Regions from separate parts of the Homo sapiens genome. Here regions 2, 3 and 4 are each linked to region 1. A link means that fine-mapping ties the variant in region 1 to the plasma level of a protein whose gene starts in the linked region. Region 1 holds a variant in brackets. A gene starts in each other region. All regions are shown on their reverse strands.

Region 1 (4,546 bases):
TGATTTCCTTTTCAAGCAGTTAGAGTCCAAATTGATTTTAAAATCGAAATGGAAACAGACACATTTACCATTTTTGTTATTGTTAATCCCTGAATATTGGAAACTAGTGGTTGGGAAAAACTGTAGTACAATAGTAGATAGATGATAGTTATAATAGAAAGTAGCTAATTATTAAACTGTAAGATATGCATAAATAATTTGCTTTGACATCTCAGAAGGAGATGAGGAAATGCAGAGATAATAGGATATTATGTAAAACTTTGAAAAAATTCATAGGATATGAACATGTGGAAAGGGAAAGAAATGAGCTTCTAGGCAGAGCAAACAGTTTAAAAAAAGACTTGGAGGCCCTTAAACATATGGGATATGTACATGAAGCAGAGAGGCATTAAGTTTGCCTGAAGCTCTGCCAACTCAAGAAGTAGGAAATAATTTTCAAATTTGGGAAAAAAGAAAAAGAAAACTGAGGAAATATCACAGAAAATGTTAAATGCTTGGGCAAGGTATCCATTCAGTAGGAATTGAGGAGACACTGAAAGGGTATGGAAGGTTAGTGCAAAGGTTTATTCTCTTCATGTTTGGCATATCTTGGCTTATAATTGCTCTTTGCTTCATTATTTTCAACTGTCCTTGAAAACCTAAGTGTCTCAGATTTGTAAAAAAAGAACCTTAGAATGATATTCAAGATACCTGTGGTATCTTTTGCCTTGATGTTTCTGTTATTATTATTATTTTAAACTTTGCAATTCCTTATTTTCCACGATCTCCCATTTCCTTATTCACAAATTGGCATCAAATTGCCAGATTTGTATACTTTACTTTGGAACTCTAAGTGTATAAATTGAATATGTTTTGCCATACTATTTTGGGGGTATGATCTAGGTACCTCTAAGAAATACTTTTATTTTAGCAAATATTGTATATCCTTTAGAACAATTTACAATTAGAGGAAGATACGGGGTGGTGGGCATGTCAAGTTCATGTATCTTATTACCAAATTCAGATTATAATCAGTGGTCATGTCCATGGTTCAGGAGGTGACACAACATATAGCCAGAAATCAGTCATAAATACGAGGGTATAGGAGAAGAGATTTCATCTCTATCAAAATTGAAACATTTTTAGCATAAAACCTAAGACCTAATATTATATAACAAGATATCTTTATATTTGTGTGTGAGATACATTTCAAATAGCCATTTAATAACTCATTGCTATAGTCTCTTCGATGATAAAGAAAACTTATACATTTTCTGTTCATACTTGTTTGATATATTATCAAAATTAGGGACTGTAGTCATAGATTCCTGAAAGAAGTGAGCTCAGGATAGTGACATTAACCCTTGCCTTACTGTTTGTAGATGTAATACCAAATTTTAATCTTTGATGGAATGTTTCTGACCAAAATTAGTATGTAAAGTATATGCTAATACTTGGTTTAATTCTGGTTTATTATCTTAATGTCCTAATTGATCCATAAACTTGAACATCTTTTGCATTACAGAGCACACTTGTAAGCAATTTTGGAAGCTCCTAAAATTAGGGTTGGGGACTTTCACTAATATTTTTAGTTCGCTTTTTATCTAGAAGTTATATATTTTGTTTTGTTTACATCAAAAGAAGTACAGAGAATAACATTGTCTGTGTTTTTGCTTTTCCCCTTAAATGATACATAATAGACAAATTTAATATTATAAGGAGAATATTAAGCCATGGAAATACTCAGCTGTATTTTAAAGACAATTATTAAAAGTTTACCTGAATACTAAGATACACTTACAATGCAAATTGGAATGTTTCCCCGTAAGACTTTTTTTTTTTTTTTTTTTGCATGGAGATCACAGTTAAGCAAGTTGGAGTGTGCTGTCTATTTTTTTCTTAGCTTCATCTGGTATCTCCATATACTGTGTCTGTCTCCTTCTCTTTCCCTTTCCACACTTTTCCCTTAGAGCTTCCTTCCTTGTCCCTAAAACATTATTCCAAGCTGCCAGCTCAAGGACTCTATACTGTAATGTCCTGCAAATGACCTCATGGAAGCTATTAGTAGGTATAAATTTTAAGATAAAAAAGAGAAGCAAATAAGAAGCCATAACCTAGTCTAAAGGAAACATCTGGTCCCTACCAGAAGTGATGTGCTAAAAATGAAACACAGAACTGTGGGATTTGAATTTTAAGTTAATAACAATGAACAC[G/A]ATATAGAAATGGGTGATTTAAGCAGCTAAGATTTCAAGGTCTAACTCTTGATTAAGGTTTATATGACATTACCCCTTCCAGGAAACTTAGAAACATAGGAGACTGATTGTCTTTCATGTAAAGGATTAAATGCAAGCAAAATTCATAAAGCAGAAAATATTTGTGATACTTGTGTTTTTTGATTGACAGCAGATACAGTTAGGCCTACTCAGTCTTTCTGTAAACTTTTCTTCCTGTACAGTTACAAGTCAACTTTATACTCATTTTGTTCATAAGGACAATATCTAAAAATATCTTTTATTATTATTTTTTGTCTTTTAACTTTATGTTGTGGACATCTTAGAGAGTAGAGATAATGGTATAACATAGAGCCCAGGTGATCATACCTCAGCTTCAATGTTTATCCACATTTTGCCATTTGGGCAGTAAATCACTTTTAGATATTCAGTCTAAAAACCTTAACATAAAGGACAGACATGATATAAACGGATATTTGAATATTGGAATTTGGAGGCTAAATCAGAGATTAGATAAGAATTGCAATGACCAAGGTCCGAAGTCACTAGGAAAAAACAGTCGCTAAATTTTATGTTTGTATTACATGCATGCTAATTCACAACACAGAACTGATTGGATTTATTTAGCTACTGTGTGCTAATTGTAGTATTAAAACATCTGCAGGATCAAAGAGATCATATACAACACTGAATCCAAAACTGTCACATCTACTTTTCTTGATGATACCTCAAATAAAAACTCTATTCCATTGCCTTAATGCTAAATAGAAGCTTTGGCCCATTACAATATAAATTCCCTTGGAGGTCTGGCAGTTATTTGCAGGTCATGACTCAGCGTTAGCCAGTTTACCCTTGTTCATCTTAGGGCCTGTTACATTGAAGGCTTTCCATGAAATTGACTGAATGAATTGTTTCAATACGGAATGCAATAAAACACATTTCTAGGTACCAGTACAGGCAATTGAGAGATAGATGTGTTCAGATTTTCGATTTCTTAATAATTCAATCTTGGTAGATTGCACATGTTCAGTAATTTATCCATTTCATCTAGGTTTTTCCAAATTGCTAGCGTATAATTGTTCATAATAATTTCTTGTGATCTGTTGTATCTTTTCCCTTAGATCTCAGCATTCTCTCCAACGTCGAGCCATTCTTTGTGACTTCTTTGGTATAGATTTTCTAGATAAGTCTGACTTTTGAGAAAATCTTTGGATGAATTGTGATTATGAAAATCAGACTGACACACACATGCATAAAGTAACTAATTCAAAACAAATGGAAATTAATAGAGCCACCTCAAGTCACACACAAAGCTAAATGCTTTGCTCAGGATTCTACGGCAATTAGAAGCCGACTCCATCAGACTCTTGGTCTTTTGACCACATTGAGCTTTTATGTCCAAAGCATAACTTAGGGCTTATGTTCCCTCATTGTGCAGTTTATACCTATTCTTGTACCACCACTACTTCTACGCCTCCCTTACAGATTATAGTTATCATTAGCCAACAAATTAGAAGCCCCTGGAGAGAAATGATTATGGCTTTGCAGTCATCATTGTGTTTAGTAGTAAGTACCCAATAATATATCTGATTAGCAGTCAGAGAGCTAACACATTAACCATTTCATTTAAGCCTCATTAAATCTCTCATGTAAAGAACACTACAGTGCAGATTATTGACTAGATGAGGAAGCTATCTTATTTATCATCCAGGTATTATTCTTTATCCTTGTTCCCAGACCAAGTGACACCAAATGTCAAAACGTTGTTTGATTATAATATCCTCCCTTATCTTGGTTATCAGCTGTTTTTACCCTTACAACTTCAGTTCTGAATGGAGAATAATTGTCTAATAGATTATCCATGAATCTGTCATACACTGTCAGATATTTTCCAAACACTGTCACTCAAATGACTTCTCAATACTCAGCTGCCTCAATTAACCTTTGAGATCAAAGGCCCCATTTTTTTTTCAGATAGGGTTCACTCTGTCACTCAGGCTAGAGTGCAGTGGTGCAATCTTGCTCACTGTAGCCTCAACCTCTTAGGTTCAAGTGATCCTCCCACCTCAGACTCCCATCACTGAAATTACAGACATGATGTGCCACCATTCTCAGCTAAGTTTTATTTTTACTTTTTTGTAAATATGGGGTCTCACTATATTGCCTAGGCTGGTCTCAAACTCCTGGGCTCAAGCAATCCTCCTGCCTCAGCCTCCTGTGTCACTGGGATTACAGGTATGACCCACCACACCCAAGTCACATTTTCTCATCTGTGAATGAAAGGTGTTAGAATCCTGGGCCCTGAAAGGTTAGATTGTAATTATATGGATTCTAAA
Region 2 (4,546 bases), not on the chromosome of region 1:
TACACAGAAAGGCAAACGTATATTTTGTGGAACACAGATAAGATATAAGACTCTCAGACTGTGGCTGGAATGATCAAAGATCCAAAAAGCAAGGTTAAATTACAATGAGAAAGAGGAATGAAGCAATGGAAAGTCCAGAGCCTGAGATATAGGAAAGGAATATCTTCAAAGGCGGAGTGTTAACCTACTTCAGGCATTAAATATGCAGTTCTAAGCATTAAAGGATCAAGAACTAATCCTGGCACATTCCTGGTGGTTTACAAAAATACATGGGACATGTTTTATAATGAAATCAGCTGCTCAAGTCCTAGAGAATGTGGAAACCTCAACAAAGCAATCTAATTGTTCTCTTTAATACCATCTTAAAGTTTTTGTTAATAAACAAAAAATGTTTACAATAATTTAAAAATTGTCTCAATGTCCTTGGATCTTACCTTTACATATCTGATTTAATGTAACAAATTAAGTTTTCATATGTACCTGTTTGGTACCTAAGAGAACAGAGTAAAGCTTTATTGGAAAAGTGTCATTTGTACTATAACCTCCACACATTTTCTTTTCTCTCTGTTACTTTGTCACAGTTATTTATTCGATTATTTTTTAGTGTTTCTGTATATTTTAGGTAACAAAACACTGAAGGAAAGCAGTGACCAAAAGAACGTGAAAGACAGGGGTTACTGTGACAGAATAGCCTCAGGACTTGCTGATGAGTAGATGTAGAAAGGAAGGAAGAGAGGGAGGATCAAACCCCATTCCAACCCCAATCTTCCAGAAAAGCCTGAGGATAAATGATGGGAGAGCGAAGAATCCCTTTTAGCTGAAACAGAAGTTATGAGAACAGAAGCAGTGGTAGATGAATGGTAAGTGACTGAATTTACCCAGCTTATGATTGGGAACCCCTGAATATTTTAACTGAGATAAGAAACACAGCAACAAAAATGGTGTTGGGATTTAATGTTTTTTAAAAATTTTTAGTCTTTTCTTAAAATTTGGCATTTATTTCAAATGTGTTTTTTTTTAATTAAGAATTAGTTTTGGTAAAAATATTTGAATCATACTAAGTTTGGCTTTCCAAAATCAGGGAATGTCTTTTATACGTGTTATGCTTATTCTTCACCTCATTCTCAAAATAATTTGAAGAGTATAGAGAAAGAAATTTAGAATGAAAGATAATTTTAAGTGAATTGACAAGAAATTCAGAGTGAAGGAGATAGCAGGGGAGAAAAAATCTACGGGCTATGCCAAAGGGCATGTTAATAAACAAAATATCTGCTACTGCAGCCCACATAATCACTATATTGAAAAGTCTAACACTCTGCTAAGTAAAGAAAAATAGAATTCAAATTATTTATAAGGTAAATGCCTACTACTTAAAGCTTTGCTAGTCATGGTGATTTAACAAAAATAAAAATCTGCCATAAAACTATGTAAGAGTTACCCTATGGCAAAATAGACAACATCCTCCCCAATATTCCTATAATAAATGCATCAGCTAGCTTTGTATGGCTGTTCTTACAACTACTTTCAGTGCAAGCTAAAATAATGTAAAAGCCCATTTCATAAAGTTAAGTGTGTGCAATACATATTATATTGTGATGAAAAGGTGCTAGGAACCATTCAGTCTCAAATATTCATCTAAGCACAGCTGTACTTGAAATGAAGTGATTTCATCAAATCAAAATTCTTCCATTCCAGGAAACTCACTTTAAAGCACAAACACTACTAAAGAACAATGCAGCAAGTCACCAACTCTGTATTATTTTACTTGATTTGATAGTTTTCCTTCAATACCTAAATCTAAGCAATATCAGGCCTGCCTCATGTGGATCCTTCAAATAAAAAAAAGTATGAAATATGCAAGAAGTTGTGTAAATTCTAGGTCATAATCAGGAATGATCTCTTCCAACACAAGACTATGAAACAGCTAATTTAGCCCCTATCAGATCCAATTATATTACACTTGCTTCTCACAATGAGATAAACTATATATCTGCTGGTGAGCTATATCCATGAATTTTCAGCAGAAATCTCTCATTTGAGCAATGTAATTTAGACTAAGCTAGGGCTAAGATAAAGCATGAACTTTTGTTCTTAGAAAGGATGCACATGATGGAATGTCCCTTTATTTAGTGTTGAAGATAAAAAAAAAGCAGGAAGCAAATACCTTATCTACTCCTTTACCACAAGTTATTATTATTTTTGTGTTTTTGTGTTCAAGGTCCATGTATCTCTGAGCAGCTATGAAGAAGCTTCCTGGAAAACAATAAGCAAAGGAAAACAAATGTGTCCCATCTCACATGGTTCTACCCTACTAAAGACAGGAAGATCATAAACTGACAGATACTGAAATTGTAAAGTTGGAAACTACATTTTGCAAAGTCATTGAACTCTGAGCTCAGTTGCAGTACTCGGGAAGCCATGCAGGATGAAGATGGATACATCACCTTAAATATTAAAACTCGGAAACCAGCTCTCATCTCCGGTAAGAATGCTCAGAGCCAATAATTTGGAAATTAATTTAAAAAATGAGTTGATTCAATTCTTTCTTTTTCTACTATTGATAATATATATAGTTTAATTTCTTTTTCTTGAATGATGTTAATGCTCTAAAGCATTTGAGTAGTGTTTTCATAAGCTCATACAGACCTATTTAGATTACAAACATCCAATATATGTGCAGGGAAAATTGCATTAAGATTCTGAGCGTTTAATACTCGAGGGCATAGAAGTCAAGGGGATAACGGAAAAGAGTGGAAATTTCATTTTCTATATGTGAGCAAATGAGTGTGATTCTTCATTTGCTGTTTATTAAAGCAATTATTTATGGCATGGGTGAGCATAAAACAAAACAAAACAAAACAAAACAAAACAAAAAATACAAACACATCAGGCCTTAACAGCAAGTAATATTTCAGCTTGGAGAGGTAAAGTGCATTGGAGATGAGAATGGATGTATGGTATAGGGGTGGGCCATGCCTATTGTTGATGATCATGAGGAGAACACAGGTGAGATCTGCCAGCAAAGCTCTTTCTATTACTTGGAGGACCCTGAGAAGGCAGGGGCAGGGGCAGGGGTGAGCCTTCCCCATAGCTAACCCATACTGCCTGCTCCTTGATGTCTTTATTATATGCCTACAGTTGGCTCTGCATCCTCCTCCTGGTGGCGTGTGATGGCTTTGATTCTGCTGATCCTGTGCGTGGGGATGGTTGTCGGGCTGGTGGCTCTGGGGATTTGGTGTAAGTGTTGACTCTGCCAGAAATTTGACTGGAGGAAGGTAATACTGAAGGGTCATGGCATATCCCACTAAGCTTCTCAATGGTCGCTATTTGTCTGTTTATCACTTCTACAGTTGTCCTACAGATAGTTGCCAAGAGAATCTCAATAAAGGAGAACACTGACTGTTTCCTTGTGATTAAAATAAGATTTTAAGATTTTAACTAATGAAAAGTTATTTTTAAGAATGTACTACTGGCCTTTAAGACCCTCCTCAGTGTGGATCCAAACTATTTTTAAAAACTTTTTCATCCCTTTTCCTATCTTGCATTCCTAAGAACCAGCCAAACTGGAGTTTTTCAATTTCATATATAAATTCCATGTTCCCTTGTCTGAAATTTTTCTCATTCTATTCTCTCTACCTAAAATTTTCTGTTTCTCATTTTGTTTACTAAGTTACTGTGCATTTCTTCTTTCTGTAATTCTCATGGCCCTCCAATAGCACATTGAAGTCTGTGTAGTTGTTGCTTGTTTGTGTATTTGTTGATTTTTTTAAAAGATGTTAGAATCTAACATTTATCCTCTTGTATTTCTTTATTATTTACCTGAATATCACAAGTACTTTAAGCATAACAAGAAATCAGTATGTATTTTTAAATGAATGAATAGTTTGGCATCACAGAAAGAACAGAAAATAAGAGGTCATTCACCTCTATAACTCAGCTGAGAAGCTTGTATTCAAGCAAATGAATACAGGCTCTGGGGATGTTATCGATGTTGGGATTTTTTATTTGTGATTGTCTCCTTCAAACAGTTCACTTATTAACCCTCAGGCGTCAGTTCTGTGTATTTCTTAATTTGTTCTTTATAGCCCCTCCACACTTTTCAACATTCATTTAATCATGTGTATCTAGTAAACTCCTCATATATTGGCAAAGTTAAGGAAATGAAAATTCAATGACAGACCTTTGCATCATTTCTATGGTTCTAATTACAAATTATTATTATTTACTTTTTAAACCTAGCTGTCATGCAGCGCAATTACCTACAAGGTGAGAATGAAAATCGCACAGGAACTCTGCAACAATTAGCAAAGCGCTTCTGTCAATATGTGGTAAAACAATCAGAACTAAAGGGCACTTTCAGTAAGTATTGTTTTTTTAACCTCTTCATCTCTCCAACCCCTGGAGCATTTCTCTGATGGCAACTGAAGGGAGTTTGAGATCTGCAGAAAACATTGAATGTGAAGAAAATGTAAGCCCAATTTAGAAAAAATACACCATTCCTGTGCTTGGTTTCTCCAGAAGGTCATAAATGCAGCCCCTGTGACAC
Region 3 (4,546 bases), not on the chromosome of region 1:
CTGTCTCAAAAGAAAAAAAAAAAAGAAAGAAATAACATTGTGAAGGTCCTTGGCCAGGTGACTGGCACATAGTAGGTCCTCAATAAACACTGGTTTCCTTCATCTAACGCCCAGCAACATGATGTCTCCATGAAGGCCAGGATCTTGCCTGGTCACCTCTGTCTCAGCACCCAGCAGTGGACCATATTCAACACTTAGTCCAGTGTTGAATACAGTTCACCTCTTCACACAACACGCCTGGGTGGCTTGTTAGTATGAAAATAACTTTCTTATAAGGAAATCAAAGAAAGCCTGATATGCATTGGCAAGACAGACATAAGCACATCACCAACTAGGGTGACCCGTCCTGGTTTGTTCAGGACTTTTTCAGTTTTTGCACAGAAAGTCCCAAGAAACCCCTCAATCCCAAGCAAAAACGGGAAGTTGGTCACCCAATCTCCCACTTCCACAAGGCCCAGCTTAACACATTAACTGATTTTCTCATGCTCCTGCTCCCAGTTTCCCATTCCTCACTCCCTTGTTCCCAAAGGAAGGAAGGAAAAAGAGGAAAAAAGGTGAGACGGGAGGAGATGGGAGTGAGGGAGAATGGCCTTTCCAGGCCCTTTTCTAGGTCTTACCCTCCAGATTAGGGCAATACGCCCCTCCCACCCATCCCCAGCTGCTGTAGTCTCTCTGACCACTGGTGCTTCCCCTGTGTCTGAGGTCAGATAGTTTATTAGGTTTATTACTCACACTTTGTCCCAGTTCCTCGAGCCCAATTCCACAGGGCAACATGAATGAGAGCCAGGTGCCTCCTGTGCAGGCAGTGAGTTTGGATCACAGGAGAGAAACCCCCAAATTAGGAGACTTGGAGTTTATATAGAGAATCTGGTATATCTTCCTCTCTGGAAGAGAGAGAGAGAGAGAGAGAGAGAGAGAGAAACGTTTACTCTGGAATGTAAATCTCCGGTGAAGAAGAGGAAGAATGCGAGCAAATCTCTGGACGTTGCACTCAAGGTATGTTTGCTATTCAATCACCCTTCAGCAAAACTTGGCCAATACCCTTTGCACAGAAGGACTAGAACATGCAGCAATGTGAAAATATTTGTGAAGAATTGTCTTCCAACAGAGAAGATAGAGCATTCATGAAACAAAAATAGTATGCCAGAATTTAAAAATGCTCAAAGAATAAGGAATATCTTGTCTTGTAAATTAAAAATATTAAAAAATAACATTTTAAAAGACAAAAATAGAAGGATGGAAGAAAATGAGGAAATCTCCTTGAAGGCAGAACAAAAGAGACAAAAAGATGGAAAATGAGATAGAAAAGATATGAAAATGAGATGAACACACGACATTCAATAACCAACTAGTTAAGGAATTGCAGAAAAATGGAAGGGGAGAAGAAAATGGACATGTAATTATCAAAGTAAGAATTTGTTTCCCAGAACTGAAGAATGTGGATCCAGATGGAAGGGTTCTATAGTGTCCAGGACAATAAATGAAGAAAGACCCAGTCCAGGGCACAGGATCAAGGTGAAACTTCCTGTTTGAGGTTGTACTGCATACAACCTCCTAAAAGCTTGGGTGGTCGTGGGGCACTCCCAAAGAATTGAGAGCAAGAATGGCATTGAGTGAGGTGCAGGGCACTCTACCTTCCTCCTTCATAGCTGTGCACCCTCAGATTCTGTATTAGGAAGATCCTGAAGATCATCTTTCCTCTTCCTCTCCTGTCCTCCAATTGTCACAATCCTCCCATCTCACCCCTTAGCCGGGCCCCAGCCCCTGCAGGCTTCTAGCTTTCTTCGGGTCTTCTCATCCTGTCTTGCCCACCCTTACCCTCAGGGCAGTTCCTGAGCACTGAGCCAACCAGGGCTTGGAAGAACTCCCTTTCCCCACCCCTGGAGGTGCCCATCATTTCCTTTCTCCCACCCCAAGTGACTTTCTGAGGCAGATGTTTCCTGCCCTCAGGCGAATGCTGCATCAGTGCCCAGGCAAGCCCAGGAGTTGACATTTCTCTGCCCAGCCATGGGCCTCACCCTGCTCTTGCTGCTGCTCCTGGGACTAGAAGGTAAGGTTCAGGAGGAGCTGCAGCTCTGGGCCCCATATGCTCAGCCCCATGTCCAGGAGTAACGTGTTATTGTGAATGCCACACCCATACCAGCAGCTGGGCTGGGAGATGCTCCCAGCTCCTGCCCAAAATTCCCACCTCCTTTCCTTCCCCAGGTCAGGGCATAGTTGGCAGCCTCCCTGAGGTGCTGCAGGCACCCGTGGGAAGCTCCATTCTGGTGCAGTGCCACTACAGGCTCCAGGATGTCAAAGCTCAGAAGGTGTGGTGCCGGTTCTTGCCGGAGGGGTGCCAGCCCCTGGTGTCCTCAGCTGTGGATCGCAGAGCTCCAGCGGGCAGGCGTACGTTTCTCACAGACCTGGGTGGGGGCCTGCTGCAGGTGGAAATGGTTACCCTGCAGGAAGAGGATGCTGGCGAGTATGGCTGCATGGTGGATGGGGCCAGGGGGCCCCAGATTTTGCACAGAGTCTCTCTGAACATACTGCCCCCAGGTGAGTTATCCTAGGCCAGCTACCACCCCTTAGACCTACCCTCCCCACCCCCGCCTATTGCCAGGGCTCATGGGTTCTTGAGGAGTGGGGGCCCCTGGGGAGGAGGCATTCCAAGGAGATATCCTCTTGACAGCTCTGCAGGGAGCGGAAACCAAACTGGGTGGGAAGTCTGAGATAAATCAGCTGAAAACCATCCCTTTCCCCCTTCCACACTACTGCGCTTCCCCACAGGAAGGCATGTCCTTCCCACTCCAGGGACTTGGCCTCTTCTTCCAGCATTTTCAACATACTTGATGCTAACTTATTTTTTAATTAGAAATATTTTAAACAATGTTGAATCTGAGTGTATAAAACCAGAATTAATTTTTGTAGCTTCCAGTGTTTTATTCCTGTAATAGCGGGCTTGATGGCTTAAGAATTATGGAATTCATACCTTAATTAATTTTATAAGTCTTCACAGGCCATCTAGTATGTCTCACCTACAAGTAGGTACATTCAGTGCCTGAACAACTTCAACTCCTTTCGTTTTAAAAATGGAAAAATGTCATTAATATTTTAAGCCAATATTCTTGACCCTATTTTCAGTATTAAAGACACTGTTTTTGCAGGTTTCATTCCCACAGCCCATAACTTTTCTAGTATATAAGCATTTGTTAAAAGAAAATTTTAAAATATTAAAAACTTGGGTTTTTTTTTTTAAGAAAGATAGGATGTTCTAAAAATAAAAAATGGTCAGCTACCTGAAGCACAGACAGCCACTCCTTTTCTTTTATGGATACTGGCCATTTTTTCACCTTTAGGTCTTCCTTTTCTCATATTTTATGCCCAACCCCCAAATAATAAAATTAAGTAGAGCATTTTCCCTTCCCTTGTTTTTTGTTTTGTTTGAGACAGGGTCTCACTCTGTTGCTCAAGCTGGAGTGCAGTGGCACTATCGGCTCACTGCAACCTTGGCCTCTCGGGTTCAAGTGATTCTTGTGTCTCAGCCTCCCAAGTAACTGGGACTACAGGTGCCCACCACCATGCCCAGCTAATTTTTGTATTTTTAGTAGAGACGGGGTTTTATCATGTTGGCCAGGCTGGTCTTGAACTCCTGACCTCAAGTGATCTGCCCGCCTTGGCCTCCCAAAGTGCTGGGATTGCAGGTATAAGCCACCACCCCTGGCCCCTTCCCTTGTTTTTTTTCCCTCTAAATAAGAGGGTAGACTATGTTGTCATTAGAATCCTTCTCATCTCAAGCCTGTGGTTATTGTTTTATATTATAAATATATTGTTAATCCTTGTCATCCTTTGCCCTCCTCATTCCTTGACACTTTGAGTTACTAAATTCAGGTTCTAACTCACTAAAAGGCAAATTGTGACAAGATGAGACTCCCTGGGAGGAGCGTCAGGGAGGCAGGGACCTGGGCCCCTGACCTGCTGCCATGGGGCAGGTGCTGTGGAGGATGATGTTCAGGCAGGCAGGTGGCGCGTAGCATCCAGAGATGATGTGGCTTGCGGCTCAGGTGAGCATTTAGCTTCAGAGAAGGTGGTCAAAGGCAGCCTAATAGGCACCAGGAGGGCAGGACATGTGCCACAGCAACCCCAGTTCCTGGTGTGGCATAGGATGGGGAGTAGGAATGGTGAATCTCTCAAGAACAAGGCAAGGCCCCATTCCAGTCGGTCTGAAAGGACTGGCCAGGTTCCTAAGACAAGTCTCCAGGCCCAGAGAAACCAACCCCAAGTCCTGCAGCCAGAAGTCAAGCACATCATATGGGTGACAGAAGCCTTGTCCTCAAACTGAGTCTCAGGATCCCAGCAAGGCTCTCAGCAAGGGTCAGTTGGTTTGTGTTGCATCACATGAGGGCCCACCCAGATTTTCTTCAGTCCTGAGGGCAGAGCTTGGGCTAGGGTTGCAGGGTCACAGGTATGTGAGGAAGCCCCATTTAAGACCCATGAGATCCAGGAGCTATGTCACCATTGAGGATGAGAACTGCAGAAACCTATTCGGGTGGGAAGGAGAGGTGGG
Region 4 (4,546 bases), not on the chromosome of region 1:
TCAGAAGACTCCGAACTCTCAGCTTACACCCTTCCTTTAAGCTTGCTTAAGACTAGAAATTTCTATGTTGTGACAGGGAGAAAAATCATTCCAATTAAATATGCTCTACTGCTAAACTCTAATTTAAAGAAAACAATAAATGAGGTGGAGAAAAATAAGAAATACATTCATCAACTGAAACTAAGGCTAGTGAGGCAGAAATAATTTTATACATGTTTATTGAAAGCCAACTGGGAAGACAGACCTGGGAAGACACATCCACAAAGTTGGGGGTGTTCTAGAGTCTTTCACAAGTTACAAGGGCTTTATATAATAGAAAAGCTTAAAATAAGGCAGAAAAACTCCTCATACCAGAGTTGTCTTCTTTTTCATTGGAGGGTACAATACCGAAGTTAAAATCATTAGCTACAGATTACAGCATACAGGCTAAATGTCTACATACAAAACAATCAATAAAACTTTTTGTTTCAGCTAAACTTAGAAATAAATCATTGTCCTATTTAGTGTCAGTAGGTTCTACAGTAATTAGTACATCAATCATTTGAGGAACTCGTAATAAAATACTTTACTCAGAGATAGAATGTCACCATCAAGTCACGAAACCTTTCCAGGGCGAGTTAATTTGGAAGTCTGCTTACTTCTAAAGTAAACTGTCAAATGTGGTCTGTAGGTTATCGCATTTAAAAACAGGACCTGAGAACTTGAGTAGACATAGTAGATAACTATTAAACAATAGGGAAAATTGGCTTGAAAACAAAAACATGATTTAAAAAATTACTATATTCATCTTTTTGATAGAGAGTAATTTTGAACATTTAGTATTTTAAGCATTTCTTCTAAAATTTAAGGATATGAAAAGTAAGAAAAGAATATGGAAAATTTAAATAATATTCTGTGAGACTTATACATAGTTGTAAAAGGAAGAAAACTTGTTGCCAGTGCCACTTACATCTGCCTCTTCTTTATTGACAATCTTCCAAATAAATTTAAATAGCATAGTTGCTTTGGGTCCTGTCGAGTTTGGCCTGGAATTGTAGGTGATTAGAAAGGATAGGGAAGCTTTCATGTGATACGTATTCATTGATTTATTAATTATTTAAGACCTACTTTATATTGAAGTATCCTACATGTTATAGGATACATGAGACATTCAAACAAACACAGGACATGCCACTCCCTACAAAAGTGCATGGTTCAATTGAGGAAGGAAGTCTTACAGATGGGACAGAGAACCAGAAAATAACATAAAGCCAACATGTAATGTGTAGGTCCACCTCTCTATCTTTGTAGGGATATAGCATTTCAGACCAAAACCTTTAATTTGGGTCTGAGAATTCAGGAACAAATATTTTCCTTGGTAAGGACATTTCTTGCACAATTTCTAATAGTGCAAAATTGGAAACACCGTGAAGGGCACCAACAAGGCAAGGTTGAGTAACTATTGTTCTTATCACAGGACGTCACATGGTCATTAAGAAGAATGGGGGAAAACTACATTAAGATGACCTGAAAAGATAAGGAACACATATTTTTTGAAGGATAAAAGTCAGCTGTATAGTGATCCATATACAATACTTCTATGTATATGTGTACCTCTATGTCTTAAACGTGTCTCATTGTATACATATACATGTGTGCATATAAGTGCAGACAGAATTGAAAACTAATGCAAAATTGTTACCAGTGTTTACCACTGAATAGTAGGAATGTGGAGAAATGATGAAGAGAAATTTGTGTTTTATTTCAAAGACATCTGCAGCATACGAATCTTTTGCAATAAATTATATAATTTTTCTGTTAAATTAAAAATAAAAAGAAAAATAAATATGCTGGGTCCTACTTTTTAGGTATTCTTAGGTGGTAGAAACAAGTAGCTTCTTTTGTAATATAAAGGAGGATGAGTTTCATTTGTAGTTTCTAGATGAAATTACAAAAGATAATATAGATTGAAGGCAGAAAGAATCCAATAAGCTAAAATCCAAAGACAACCTTTGACGGTAATTGGCTCTTATTTTACTTACATGCTCCAAACCAATCCCAATATTTATCAACATTCATGAAAAGAACATTTGCTTTCTTTGGCAAGCAAAGATAACTTTCTCTTTCAAGGGCCACATGTTTGTGCCTTCAGGTGCTCCTAAAGTTTCTATTAAGCCTAAAAACTGCAGTATAGAAAAGGCAGGGCGTATTGTTATAAATCATACAAAGAAAATGCATGTAGTATTTCAGTCTAGTTCTTACCTTCCTGAACGGAGTTCTTACACAGGTGTAAGGAAGATAAGTATTGAGAAAGGGAGAGTGGGAATGTGAAGTGATGCACATTAAGCAAGTTAGTAGGAATTTGACCTGTCTGGTCTTTCTCTGGGTTGGGCACAGCTTCAAATGCTTATGTGTGTATCACCACATACCCTCACTTCCTCCTTTCCTACCTCTTCCTTCTTACTGGCTTTGAGAAAGAGCATATAAATGACATCTTCAGGGCATGAGAAGCCACTTATCTGCAGACTTGTAGGCAGCAACTCACCCTCACTCAGAGGTCTTCTGGTTCTGGAAACAACTCTAGCTCAGCCTTCTCCACCATGAGCCTCAGACTTGATACCACCCCTTCCTGTAACAGTGCGAGACCACTTCATGCCTTGCAGGTGCTGCTGCTTCTGTCATTGCTGCTGACTGCTCTGGCTTCCTCCACCAAAGGACAAACTAAGAGAAACTTGGCGAAAGGCAAAGGTAGAGGCCCTGCTTCTCTGCACTTGTTGCTGCTTCTGCTACACCTGTCTCTGGGGTAAAGACTAGCTTGGTGCCTTTGGGGCTGGAGAGGGCCATTATACCAATAACTCCAATTGGAGGAGACACACAGGGGGGTCACTTCTCACTTCTTGTGTGCTGGGCAATCTTCTGGGCACTTTACTAAAGCGTTACAGATCATATTCACAATGGCTTTATGAGAGAGGTACAATTGCCCTCAATCTGCAAATAAGAGACCTGAGGAAAATATTCATGACCACCAATAGGTCACATTTTCTACCCTAGAGGAAAGTCTAGACAGTGACTTGTATGCTGAACTCCGCTGCATGTGTATAAAGACAACCTCTGGAATTCATCCCAAAAACATCCAAAGTTTGGAAGTGATCGGGAAAGGAACCCATTGCAACCAAGTCGAAGTGATGTAAGTTGCTGTTTCTGTGCTATTGCCTTATCAGAGAAACCCTCTACCTCCATCCACATATGCACTCGTTTCCTCCAGTCTCATGGATTAGTTCTGATATTCAGATCAGGACACCCACAGATAACCCTGTTCTCTTTTGCAGAGCCACACTGAAGGATGGGAGGAAAATCTGCCTGGACCCAGATGCTCCCAGAATCAAGAAAATTGTACAGAAAAAATTGGCAGGTGATGAATCTGCTGATTAATTTGTTCTGTTTCTGCCAAACTTCTTTAACTCCCAGGAAGGGTAGAATTTTGAAACCTTGATTTTCTAGAGTTCTCATTTATTCAGGATACCTATTCTTACTGTATTAAAATTTGGATATGTGTTTCATTCTGTCTCAAAAATCACATTTTATTCTGAGAAGGTTGGTTAAAAGATGGCAGAAAGAAGATGAAAATAAATAAGCCTGGTTTCAACCCTCTAATTCTTGCCTAAACATTGGACTGTACTTTGCATTTTTTTCTTTAAAAATTTCTATTCTAACACAACTTGGTTGATTTTTCCTGGTCTACTTTATGGTTATTAGACATACTCATGGGTATTATTAGATTTCATAATGGTCAATGATAATAGGAATTACATGGAGCCCAACAGAGAATATTTGCTCAATACATTTTTGTTAATATATTTAGGAACTTAATGGAGTCTCTCAGTGTCTTAGTCCTAGGATGTCTTATTTAAAATACTCCCTGAAAGTTTATTCTGATGTTTATTTTAGCCATCAAACACTAAAATAATAAATTGGTGAATATGAATCTTATAAACTGTGGTTAGCTGGTTTAAAGTGAATATATTTGCCACTAGTAGAACAAAAATAGATGATGAAAATGAATTAACATATCTACATAGTTATAATTCTATCATTAGAATGAGCCTTATAAATAAGTACAATATAGGACTTCAACCTTACTAGACTCCTAATTCTAAATTCTACTTTTTTCATCAACAGAACTTTCATTCATTTTTTAAACCCTAAAACTTATACCCACACTATTCTTACAAAAATATTCACATGAAATAAAAATTTGCTATTGACTTGTTGTCATCTATTATTAATTTTAACAGGATTGTTGGGGAAAAAAAGCTTTAATTTTCCTCTCTTTTTTGTATACTTGGTATTTCACAGTTTGAACAACAAAAGTTACTAAATTGATGATCGGTGTCATTCTTAATGTAGTATGATAACAGTTCCAATTTATTAATCATTTTAATATGCCAGGAATACTAAGTGTTTTCCATGCATGAACTAAACAATTTTTTAAAAGATAGATATGATCTGGTTAAAAGAACATCCTCTGGAGTTTGAATAATGAGGTAACCTGGCTCTGCCACTTGTT

Direction of the effects. Alleles are on the strand shown, and positions count from the first base shown. The strength of an association depends on the size of the effect and on how common the allele is.
For the plasma level of the protein whose gene starts at base 2,398 in region 2, A is the high allele of the variant in region 1 and G is the other (weak association).
In carriers of allele A in region 1, the plasma level of the protein whose gene starts at base 1,949 in region 3 tends to be higher than with G alone (weak association).
In carriers of allele A in region 1, the plasma level of the protein whose gene starts at base 2,493 in region 4 tends to be higher than with G alone (weak association).

The links. A credible set is the group of variants that fine-mapping cannot tell apart. PIP is the chance, under the fine-mapping model, that this variant and not a neighbour inherited with it causes the effect. Protein levels are from antibody-based Olink assays in UK Biobank. Linkage for the fine-mapping came from a reference panel and not from the study's own genotypes, which makes the PIPs less certain.
Region 2: CLEC1B starts here. The variant in region 1 is the best candidate, but not a certain one, in a credible set for the plasma level of the CLEC1B protein (UK Biobank, PIP 0.53).
Region 3: TREML1 starts here. The variant in region 1 is the best candidate, but not a certain one, in a credible set for the plasma level of the TREML1 protein (UK Biobank, PIP 0.61).
Region 4: it holds the start of PPBP, and the variant in region 1 is the best candidate, but not a certain one, in a credible set for the plasma level of the PPBP protein (UK Biobank, PIP 0.80).

What each region holds. Positions count from the first base shown.
Region 1 is chr7:80,587,292-80,591,837 of GRCh38, reverse strand. No RefSeq gene overlaps it. Among named protein-coding and RNA genes, the nearest start is that of CD36, 49 kb to the left of the region's middle. The variant G/A (reference allele first, on the strand shown) is at 2,193.
Region 2 is chr12:9,996,973-10,001,518 of GRCh38, reverse strand. CLEC1B (C-type lectin domain family 1 member B) reads left to right here and starts at 2,398. Exons shown (of 6, transcript NM_016509.4): 1 at 2,398-2,482; 2 at 3,139-3,237; 3 at 4,240-4,359; 4 at 4,519-4,546. The coding sequence starts at 2,419. It also overlaps a transcript of CLEC12A not described here.
Region 3 is chr6:41,151,750-41,156,295 of GRCh38, reverse strand. It overlaps TREML1 (triggering receptor expressed on myeloid cells like 1), which reads left to right and starts at 1,949. Exons shown (of 6, transcript NM_178174.4): 1 at 1,949-2,050; 2 at 2,206-2,538. The coding sequence starts at 2,008.
Region 4 is chr4:73,986,137-73,990,682 of GRCh38, reverse strand. It overlaps PPBP (pro-platelet basic protein), which reads left to right and starts at 2,493. Exons shown (of 3, transcript NM_002704.3): 1 at 2,493-2,727; 2 at 3,031-3,166; 3 at 3,309-4,244. The coding sequence starts at 2,580. The coding sequence ends at 3,411.